Homo sapiens: one gene and its partners. The protein of the gene in region 2 interacts with the protein of the main gene of each other region in a pairwise test. Each region holds a gene or a part of one and is shown on either strand. Other genes may lie near its edges.

Region 1 (3,658 bases), on a different chromosome or scaffold from region 2:
AAGGACTCGAATAGACATTTCTTCAAAGAAAATATACAAATGGCCAAAAGCACATGAAAAGATGATTAACATCATTAGTCACTGGAGAAATGAAAATCAAAACCACAGGAAATAACACTTTACACTCACTAGAATGGCTGGAATCAGAAAGTCAGATAATAAGTGTTGGCAAAGATGTTGTGAAACTGGAACCTTCATACACTCCTGGTGGGAATGTAAAACAGTGAGCCACTTTGGCATACAGTCTGGCGGTTCCTCAAACAATTAAACACAAAGTGACCATATGACTCAGTAATTCCCCTCCTAGATACATACCAGAGAAAAATGAAAATATGTCCACACAAAAAACTTGTATATGAATGCTCATAGCAGCATTATTCATAATAGCCAAAAGGTAAAAACAACCCAAAGGTCCACTGAAGATGAATGAAAAACAAAATGCAGTCTGGTCTATCCACACAATGGAATAAAATTTGGTTATAAAAAGGCTGGCATGGTGGCTCATGTCTGTAATCCCAGCACTTTGGGAGGCCAAAGTGGGAGGATTGCTTAAGGCCAGGAGTTTGAAACCAGCCTGGGCAACACAATGAAACCTCATCTCTGTAAAAAAAAAAACACAAAAATTATCCAGGTGTGGTGGCATGCACCTGTAGTCTCAGCTACTCGGGAGGCTGAGGTGGGAAGATCACCTGAGCCTGGGAGGTTGAGGCTGCAGTGAGTCGCGATCACGTCACTGCACTCTAGCCTGGGTGACAGAGTGAGACCCTGTCTCTAAAAAGAAAAAAAGGAATGAAATACTGATACCTGCTACAACATGGATGAACCATGAAAACATTCAGCTAAGTGAAAGATGCCAGTTACAAAAGACCACATATACAATTCCATTTACATGAGACGTTCAGAGTAGAAAAATTTTAGAGACAGAAGATTAGTGATTGCTTAGGACTGGAGGGATGAGTGGTAGGGAGGTGACAGCTAAAAGGTATGGAATTTCTTTCTGAAATGATGAAAATGTTCTCAAGTTGACTGTAGTAATGGTTGGACAACTCTGGAAATATACTAAACTCCATTGAATTGTACCCTTGAAATGGGTGAACAATACGGCATATGAACTGCATCTCAATGAAGCTTTAAAAAATAATACAGTGGGAAGAAAAAGTCTGGCAACTTCTGACTGTCTCCTCAGCCCCCACTAGTCTCTTTTAGCCAGAAAATCCTATCATTCAATCCTCACAACAGCATCAATACCCATCATCTTCACCTACAATTTCCTTCCGTGTTCCTTTTCCCAACTCATACACACACAGCCATTCTCTGTTGCTTGAGAAAGTAAGCATGGGGCAATAGCCACAGCCTTCTTCTTTTTTTTTTTTTTTTTTTTTTTTTTTTTGAGAGGAGTCTCGCTCTGTCACCCAGGCTGGAGTGCAGTGGCTCGATCTCGGCTCACTGCAAGCTCCGCCTCCCGGGTTCACGCCATTCTCCTGCCTCAGCCTCTCTGAGTAGCTGGGACTACAGGCACCCGCCACCACGCCCGGCTGATTTTTTGTATTTTTTAGTAGAGACGGGGTTTCACCGTGGTCTCGAACTCCTGACCTCGTGATCCGCCCGCCTCAGCCTCCCAAAGTGCTGGGATTACCAGCGTGAGCCACCGCGCCCGGCCAGCCACAGCCTTCTTGTAGCTGGAAAGTGAGTTTTAAAAACCAGCAGGACATCAAGCAGAGATGTCCACCAAACAATAGGAAATTCAGGGCAGAGGCAGCAAAGAATGGTTAAAGAGGTGAGATGGGCAGACGGGAAAAACTCTGTCAGGTCTCAGTACTCTAGCTAACATCCTGACTTGTGCATGCGGAGGACAGGGCCAGACCACTCTCTTACCGACAGGGGCCAGCTGATACAGGTGAGCACGCGGTAGAAGCGGAAGAGGTGGACCAGGTAAAAGGCGAGGATCATTATCAAGTCGCAAATGGTGACCACTTCAAAGTAGCTGTAGGCGCTGTAGTTGGTCCACAGGGAGCTCCGCACACAGATGAAGGCAATCAGCAGGGTGACCTGCCACATAAATAGAGACATCAGAGAAATGCTTGCCCAAGACGGGCACCCAGGGAACAAACAACGGAAAACAACCAAGCATCCCCCAGCAGGCCCACATTGAAGAACTGCTATTAATACAATTCAGGTTATTTCCATACACACTGGCTGGAAGGTTGGAAGACTGCAACTTCATGTGGTACACACTTTGAAACTACTGTCTGTGAACACTGATGACAGCAGAGACTGACTTCGTCCTCTCTGAAGTTTGTTAGATTGTGCCAGCGGGAAGCCCCCTCAGAAGAAGCAGGAAAACAAGAAAATAACAAAGCAGAACCATCCCTTTCATCTGCTGGATATCCATAGAGCAAAGAGGACAGCGTGATGGTGACCTGGGGTTTACATATTAGGCCCAATTGTACGAAGTTGCCAATATTTGATGGTTTTTGACCTACAAAGATGGTAATTCATACCTTACAGCTATCAACTGACAGATAACAAGTTACCATTTACTGATGTCTGACATACGTGATCTCGCTAAGGCCATGCAGAACCCTGCCAGGTAGACAAAATCATCCCCATGTTCATAAGGGGAAACGGAGGCATGCAGGTTCAATCATCAGTCCAAGGCTATCTGGCTTGTAAGCAGAAGTGGGATTTGAATCCAGGTCTGTCTGACTCTAAGGACCATGTTCCTCCATGTCAGATGCAGTTCTACCTCCCAAAAGTGTAAGCTCTGATCATAACAAGCCGAGAAAGGTGGACGGGTTCTCAACCATGCAGGAATCCTGTTTAAGAGGTGAGGCTGCTCACCATCAGGGCATGTGGTGAGAGCTCACTAAGAAATATCTCAGCACGAGTGAACATGCTTAACGGCCTGCTACTGAATTAATAACCAGATGAAAACTATTAGCAATGCATGAGTACAAGAAAGTAGAATGAGTAACAGTCTGAGCTTCCGTGAAGGCCAAAGAGAAAACCTGTCTACTCCATGTAGGGAACAAACCAGTAACACACGGGATTCAATGTGTGTAAAATCTTAGAATCTACTTATTTATTTAGTTATTTAGTTTTTGTTTTTCTGAGATAGAGTCTGGCTCTGTTCCCCAGGCAGGAGTGCAGTGAACCAATCTCAGCTCACTGCAACCTCTGCTTCCTGGGCTCAAGTCATCCTCCCACCTTAGCTTCTCAAGTAGCTAGGATTACAGGCGTGTGCCATCATGCCTGGCTAATTTTCATATTTGTAGTAGAGACGGGGTTTTGCCATGTGGCCCAGGCTGGTTTCAAACTCCTGAGCTCAAGCAATCCCCCTGCCTTGGCCTCCCAAAGTGCTGGGATTATGGACGTAAGCCATTGTTTCCAGCCAGGAATCTATTTAAAATGCACAACCAATTTAGAAAAAAGATTATTTTATACACTGCCTCTCTCCTATGGAGGAGTGATTCTTTTTTTTTTGAGATGGAGTCTCACTCTGTTGCCCAGGCTGGAGTGCAGTAGCATGATCTTGGCTCACTGCAACTCTGCCTACGAGATTCAAGCGATTCTCTTGCCTCAGCCTCCAGAGTAGCTGGGACTACAGGTATGCACCACCATGCCCAGCTAATTTTTGCATTTTTAGTAGAGAGGGGGT
Region 2 (3,658 bases):
ATTTCTTCTCAATAATTCTCTATATCTTCAAAAAGATTCCCTCCACAAGCGTAAGATTCCCTACCTTGCCAAAATATCCAGTCCTATGTCAGCAATTAGCCTGACTGCAGTTTTTGAAAGACAGATTCTAGTAGGTAAAATGCACAATCGCTCCTGATTTTTTACAAACAAAGAAACAAAACCTGTTTTACACCCTGGCAGAATACATTTTTTATTAATCCTTCCTTTTTTTGATACCAAAAAAAGAAAATATTACTCACCAGGCCTTTTGTAGTTCTAATTCCTGCTGCAATTGACAAGGATCCTGAAATAATAAACTAAAAATGAGAGAAAAAATGAAGGTAAAAAACTTTAAGCCAGTATTGGGAGTCATAACTTACTAAACTTAATTCTAAATTAGATAGATATGTTAATCAGACCAATTATCTTAAAGAAAACCACAAAGGTTTGCACATTATTTTCCCTTTTCCCAGAAAGAACAGAGAAATAATACCAGATAAATCCATGGGAGAATTTATCAAGTTTTTCAAATATCTAACTGAAATGATATTAAAACTGTTTGAGGGCACTAAAAGATAGTTTCCAAACTCCTGATACAAAGTAATTCTTACATGGTACCAAAATTGATGACTATATTTAAACAAAAAATACACTAAAATTATTCTCATTTAGAATTTTTTTTTTTTTTTTTTTTTTTTTTTTGAGACGGAGTCTCGCTCTGTCGCCCAGGCTGGAGTGCAGTGGGGCAATCTCGGCTCACTGCAAGCTCCGCCTCCCGGGTTCACGCCATTCTCCTGCCTCAGCCTCCCGAGTAGCTGGGACTACAGGAGCCCGCCACTACGCTGGGCTAATTTTTTGTGTTTTTAGTAGAGACGGGGTTTCACCGTGTTAGCCAGGATGGTCTTGATCTCCTGACCTCGTGATCCGCCCGCCTCGGCCTCCCAAAGTGCTGGGATTACAGGCGTGAGCCACTGCGCCCGGCCAATATTTTTAAACTTATAAGCAAAATAGTAGCAAAAAAATGTAAATTCCCAATTAGATGATGACTAGAATATAGTAGTTCATTTGATTCCATCAATAGGCAATTATTTTTCATTTAGCTAAAATAACTAGTCAAGTTGGTTAGACTCTCTATCTTTTAATATTCAATTGTTGGAGTTTTTAATTTGCTTTTCAAATTTGATTTCAGATGATTCAAAGATTATATCATAATATAAAAAATACAGAACTAATAAAAAAGCTCAATAAATTTATTTAACTTCCAAATACCCAGACATAGAGATGATTCATGATATCTAAATCACCACTGGAATAAAACCACTAGAGGGAATCACCCATCATATGATATAAAATACATCATGAACATTTGGGATGTTCCTTCAGCTCTACAAACATTTTTTAATATTGAAATATTCTAATTTACACAATTAATGAATTTAAGAAAAAAATTACATGCTTATTGCTATTCATGTTTACAGTGTTGATAGGCTAGGACATTTAATACAATTCAACATTATTAGTAACTGCAACATTACTGGTAAAATATAAAGAATTATTGGCAGGGCGTGGTGGCACACGCTTGTAATCCCAGCACTTTGGGAGGCTGAGGCGGGTGGATCACGAGACCAGGAGATCGAGACCACAGTGAAACCCCGTCTGTACTAAAAATACAAAAAAATTAGCCGGGTGTGGTGGCGGGTGCCTGTAGTTCCAGCTACTTGGGAGGCTGAGGCAGGAGAATGGTGAGAACCCGGGAGGCGGAGGTTGCAGTGAGCCGAGATCGTGCCATTGCACTCCAGCCTGGGTAATAAGAGCGAAACTCTGTCTCAAAAAACCAAAAACCAAAAACCAAAAAAAAAAAAAAAAAAAGAATTGTAATTTCTGTAACATGATAGAAATCTGTCTCAGTCTAAAAGTCTTTATTATGTTTAATGATAAAAATGTAGGATCATTTCATTAAAGTCAAAATCAAGATAAAGATGCTGACTATTATGTAATACTATTCTGGGTATATTTACCAAAATAATTACATAAGAAAAATAGTTGGAACAAGTGGTTTAACTATTCTTATTTAAGTATGAACAATATATATTGCAAACATTCAAGAACGTGAACTAAAAATTACCATAAACTATTCTAAAAATTCAATAAGGCACCTTGGAAAAACATTCTATACAGAAATTATATATACACATTACAAGTGTGTATGTATGTCTGTGTATTTGAAGATGGGATTGAATAAGAGGACTTCATTTGCCACAGGAAAAAGTATGTATGTACTATCTCAGAGGAAAAAACAAGGAATGTGAAACATATACAGAAACAGAACTGAAGAGGCCAAAAATAAGAGGAACTTGTGACTGGTTCTTGGTATTGGTACTTATACTGTATGAAAGAGAAAAAGGAGGCACTTCATAGAAGAGGTTTGGAAAAAAAGGTTGAAAGAATAATGGAAGGTAGCCGCAGAAAAGAGTTCACCAATTAAGTAAAGGCTCATCTAATGGAACACCTACGAAAGTCTCAGTGATGTCTCAGCGGACAAATGGCTCCTGCAGTTCCTGGTAATCTACTGAACATGTGTGGAAGGCTTGCACCATGTAAGCTGGTTTTTAATGTGATCTTGAAAAGGAAACGGAAATAAAAACAGAAAACTAAGTAGTTAGATGTATGCAATTCTGAAAATACATTGACCCTATTTGAATCTTCATTCCTGTACCAAGCAGTTGTGATGTTGGGTTAGTTACTTAACCTCTCTTCATCCATAAAATGATTATAATGAAAAATCAGAAGTTCGTGGTGATTGTTTGAAATGAAATTGCACATATAAAGCACTAAGTAGAGTGTCCACATGATAGTAAGAGTTTAATAAGAGCTGTTATTGGCATCAGTATTTTTGGATATATGAAGTATTGTGCAGCTTTCTAGAAGTAAAACACAGCTTTACTGTTCTTCCAATCTTGCACTTCTGCTGTAAACAGGTGAAGGGGATCAAAAAGCAAGCTCTTCTATAAAACTCTACACTACCTCATTCTCAGTTTTAGAAATAAATGGAAACCCTGCAATGCTAGAATAGATTCCCTGATTCTAACATAAACCCAACTTATAAATTTTATTTTTCTCTCTTCAATGGATAAAACTTGGTATTTTATTCTCAATTTTACTCTCAATTTGCATTAAAACTATCTTGTGTTTTCTCTTGGGAGAAGGTTTTTAAATTTAAATTCCAATTCTAATTTTAATGTAATATTAATAATAGTTATAATTAATTTAATATTAATTATAATAATTAGTTATTTTATTGAATTTATGAAACAAAATATATCAAATAACATTTTCATTTTCTGAGGTAACAATTTCCTGAGTTTCGATAGTCAGTAGACTAGATATTAGAAACTGCTTGTGTACCAGCCACATCTCCTCTTCTTCCTTGCTAACTAAACCATCATTTTGTTCAGTTTCTCATGAGCTAAAGGTAGGGTAGACTCCTCCCAGCTACAGAGGTAAATCTTGATTAGTCCAAGCCAATAATGGCAAGTCCGTTATCCTTACTGACAGTTGATTTGGGAATATGTATATGAAATATTTACCAAAAGTTGGATGTGTCAACCATCTCCCCTCTGATGTGGTCTGCTAGCAATCCTTGATGAAATCCTTGCAC
Region 3 (3,658 bases), on a different chromosome or scaffold from region 2:
ATCAGACAAACGGATTAACAAAATGTGGCACACATACACAACAGAGTATTATTCAGCCATAAAAAAAGAATGAGATCCTATCATTTGCAACAGCACGGATGAACTGGAGGACATTTTATTAACTGAAATAAACTAGACACAGAAAAGAAAAGTTTACATATTCTCACTCATTTGTGGGAGCTAAAGTTTAAAACAACTGAACTCATGGAGATAAGAGAGTAGAATTTTGGTTACTGGAGGATGGGAAGGGTAGTGGGGGTGGGAGAAAGGGTGATGGTTAATGGGTACATAATATAGTTAGCTAAAATGAATAAGATTTAGTACTTGATACCACAATAGGGTGACTACAGTCAACAATAATTTATTGTACATTTAAAAATTAACAGAGCACAACTGACATGTTTATAACACAAAGAAATAATAAATGCTTGAGGTGATGAATACCCCATTTACCCTAATGTGATTATTACACATTGCATACCTGTATCAAAATATCTCATGTACCCCATAAATATATTACACACCGAATATGTACCCATGAAAATTAACTTTTTTTAATTTTAAATTTAAAAAAATGTTTTTCTAGCAAAGAGATCCTCTGAGGTTGCTATTTGAAAGTATTTTCCCGATTAGTCACACATCTGGTAGCTTACTTTATAAATCACTGAAAGGATTGCTTTGAACTTCTATATTCTCTCATGTACTTGATTTAAAATATTAGAATAAAGTAATTCATTTTCAAGAGTTTCTCAGTTTTTCCCAAGGATTTTTTTAAAATAAAATAACTGAGATCCAGAACTCACCAGAAGAAATCTTACCAGCACCTTTACAGTCAACAGAAAATGCTGATGTGACTCCATTGGCTGACCCCAGTTCGCACATGGAAATTTGATAAGGAGGCCTCAGCTTGATTTCCGTCTGCATGTCAGAAAGATTTATCTTTGTTGAAAGAGACCTGGGATTATTATATCGCTGCTTGGTCCTCTGAATGAAGTTATCTATGTAAAATAAAAAATAAATTTCCTTGCAGTCACTTGTCAATTAATCATTTCAGAATATGATGTTTATGGATAGTAAATATTACAGGTAGTTTATTATTCAAAATTGTTCAATTCGTCATGAAATAGTCCAATATTACTTGTGTTTAATGATTAATGTATCATGGAATCATCAGTTTTACCCTCTAGAAATCAGTAATTTTAAATAAACTAAGGATTTAACACTACCTAAGTGTATTACATCCACTTCAAGAAATTACAAAAACAAAAAACAGCTTTAACTTTAAACCAAAGTCTTGAATTTTTTTTTTTGAGACAGGGTCTTGCTCTGTCACCTAGACTGGGGTGCAGTGGTACAATCATAGCTCACTGTAACCTCAAACTCCTGTGCTCAAGTGATCCTTCTGCCTCAGTCTCCCAAGCAGCTGGGGCTACTGGTGTGAGCCACCATGCCCAGTTTATTTATTTATTTTTGTACAGACAGGGTCTATGTTGCCCAGGGTGGTCTCGAACTCCTGGCCTTAAGTGATCCTACTGCCTCGGCCTCCCAAAGTGCTGGGATAAAAGGCATGAGCCACACCACACCTGGCCCAAAGTCTTGATTTTTATAGAGATTCCTATCTCATGAAATATTAAATCTGTCAGATTTACCAGCTGCAATTACATAAGAACACACACTAGAAGTTGCATGTTTTTATAAATCTGTTTTTTATTGCTTACACCATTAGAATGTAGGTTTTAAAGAATAAATTGAATAAAACTAACATAAGACATTTCCTAAATATTTTCCAAGTGGAATTTTATTTTTACTATTTACAACATGGTGTTTTTTTTTTTTCTTCTACATCAGAAGTTGAGCAAACTACTGCCCACAGGCCAAATCTAGCCTGCTGACTATTCTGTAAAGTTTTATTAGAATATAACTGCACTCATTTACGTACTGCCTATGGCTGCTTTCGAGCTACAACGGCAGGGCTGAATAGTTGTGACAGGGACTATATGATCCTTAAAGTCTAAAATATGTACTATCTGGTCCTTTCCAGCAAATGTTTGCCATCCCCTATTCTACATGAAGCAGACTATAAAAGATTATTACAGAAACGCAAAAGTCTGAATCTCTGGCTTATAAATTTCTCATTGAGAAGTTATCCTCTGGCATTAATTCTTCGGACCAATACTCACAATCCCCTTCACAGCTCAAACACAATTTTTTTCTAATAAGCATCTAAGTAAAAAGTTACCATAATTTATAGATCATTTACCAAATTATTATATCAAAAGCAAGATAGCAGAAGTCCCCCCTCCACCCAATATTAGATTTAAAATTGCTTATGATTGGATGCAGACAGAATAAAAAGGAAAAAAAAATCAGGCCCTTACCAAATTCAATGAAACAGTATGGTCTGACAGCAGTATTTGTCTTCATCATGTTATAAGTAGTAATGAACTCCTTCTGAAGCTCATCCAGGAAAGAGAAGGCGAGAACATTTGGGTAATTTTCAGTGCACAACATCATGTAGCTCACTCCCAGAGAGCTAATAAAACTACAGTGTAAAAAACATTGGTTTTAAAATTTCAAATTAAATCAAGGTAATTCACTGCTTCACAAGACTGGTTCTATACACCATAAACTGCTACTACGGTGGCAATGAAGATCTTAACATTTATTATATATTCTAGGAAAAAATTTAAAGGAACCAAAATACAGCACTATTTTAAGTTGTGGTTTAAAAACAGAAGACAAAAAATAGAATGTACTACAGAGGGACACACAATACGGTTCTAACATTTCAGTTATCACTTGGGGTAAAAAGCAGGGGAATGGATATACAAATGTATTGTAAGTATTACAGATAGCTTAAAGTCTAACCCTTCAATATGTTTTCCACTTTTGAGTCCAGAACCCTTTCAAGATTCTGATGACAGGAACACTCTCCCTAGAAAGATGCCAGAACACAGAAGATTGCACACAATTTCAAGGTGATCACTGACCTCTTGAAGTTATCATTGACACACCCCAGAATCAAATCCTCTACTTTACACAGTAATTAATTATGAACCATGGGAGGGGGGAATTTATGAGTTTATATAAAAAACAAAAGGAGAAATGAGGGCTATGGCTTAAAGCAGAATGCTGAGTGTTGACTGGTAAACGTAGAGGAAGTGCTAGCAATGGAAAAATCAGCATTTTGCAACCAACATAGTAAAGATTGGATCAGGCAAGGACAATCATGGATGTTAAATCTAGGGGGAAATTTTTACGGGTTAGTATATTTGCATGGTTTTAAAATGTCTTTCCATGGATTGTTTCTTAGTTGCAAGGGGAAAATATTATACAGTAGAAACTAGGTAACTCCTTCACCAAGTACTCTCTAACATCATTCATGTTAGATGGACATTGTGTGTCTCCAGATGTTATATCCTGAGAAAGACACATCAGCTATATAATATTCTGAGAATGCATAATTTGAATTTAATCATTAAGAAAACACCAAAATGATCAACATTCTATTTTTGAAAAGGAAAAAGTGTATTCTTTAAAAGTGCCAGGGTTGTAAAAAAGAAATAAAGGATGTGGAAATGTTGCCAATCAAAAGAAGCTAAAGAGGCCGGGCATGGTGGGGGCCTGTAATCCCAGCACTTTGGGAGGCCGAGGTGGG

Evidence for each region.
Region 1: the proteins of MS4A4A (region 2) and CMTM7 interact in a two-hybrid assay, tested with the Homo sapiens proteins (one large-scale study listed by BioGRID and IntAct).
Region 3: the proteins of MS4A4A (region 2) and SEC22A interact in binary tests that used the Homo sapiens proteins (3 or more experiments, as listed by UniProt).

Annotation. Positions count from the first base shown.
Region 1 is NC_000003.12:32,440,231-32,443,888, reverse strand, and holds part of CMTM7 (CKLF-like MARVEL transmembrane domain-containing protein 7), read right to left. Parts: intron 2,050-3,658; coding exon 1,876-2,049; intron 1-1,875.
Region 2 is NC_000011.10:60,297,660-60,301,317, reverse strand, and holds part of MS4A4A (membrane-spanning 4-domains subfamily A member 4A), read right to left. Parts: intron 318-3,658; coding exon 261-317; intron 1-260.
Region 3 is NC_000003.12:123,222,443-123,226,100, reverse strand, and holds part of SEC22A (vesicle-trafficking protein SEC22a), read right to left. Parts: intron 2,543-3,658; coding exon 2,379-2,542; intron 999-2,378; coding exon 804-998; intron 1-803. UniProt on the Homo sapiens protein: May be involved in vesicle transport between the ER and the Golgi complex.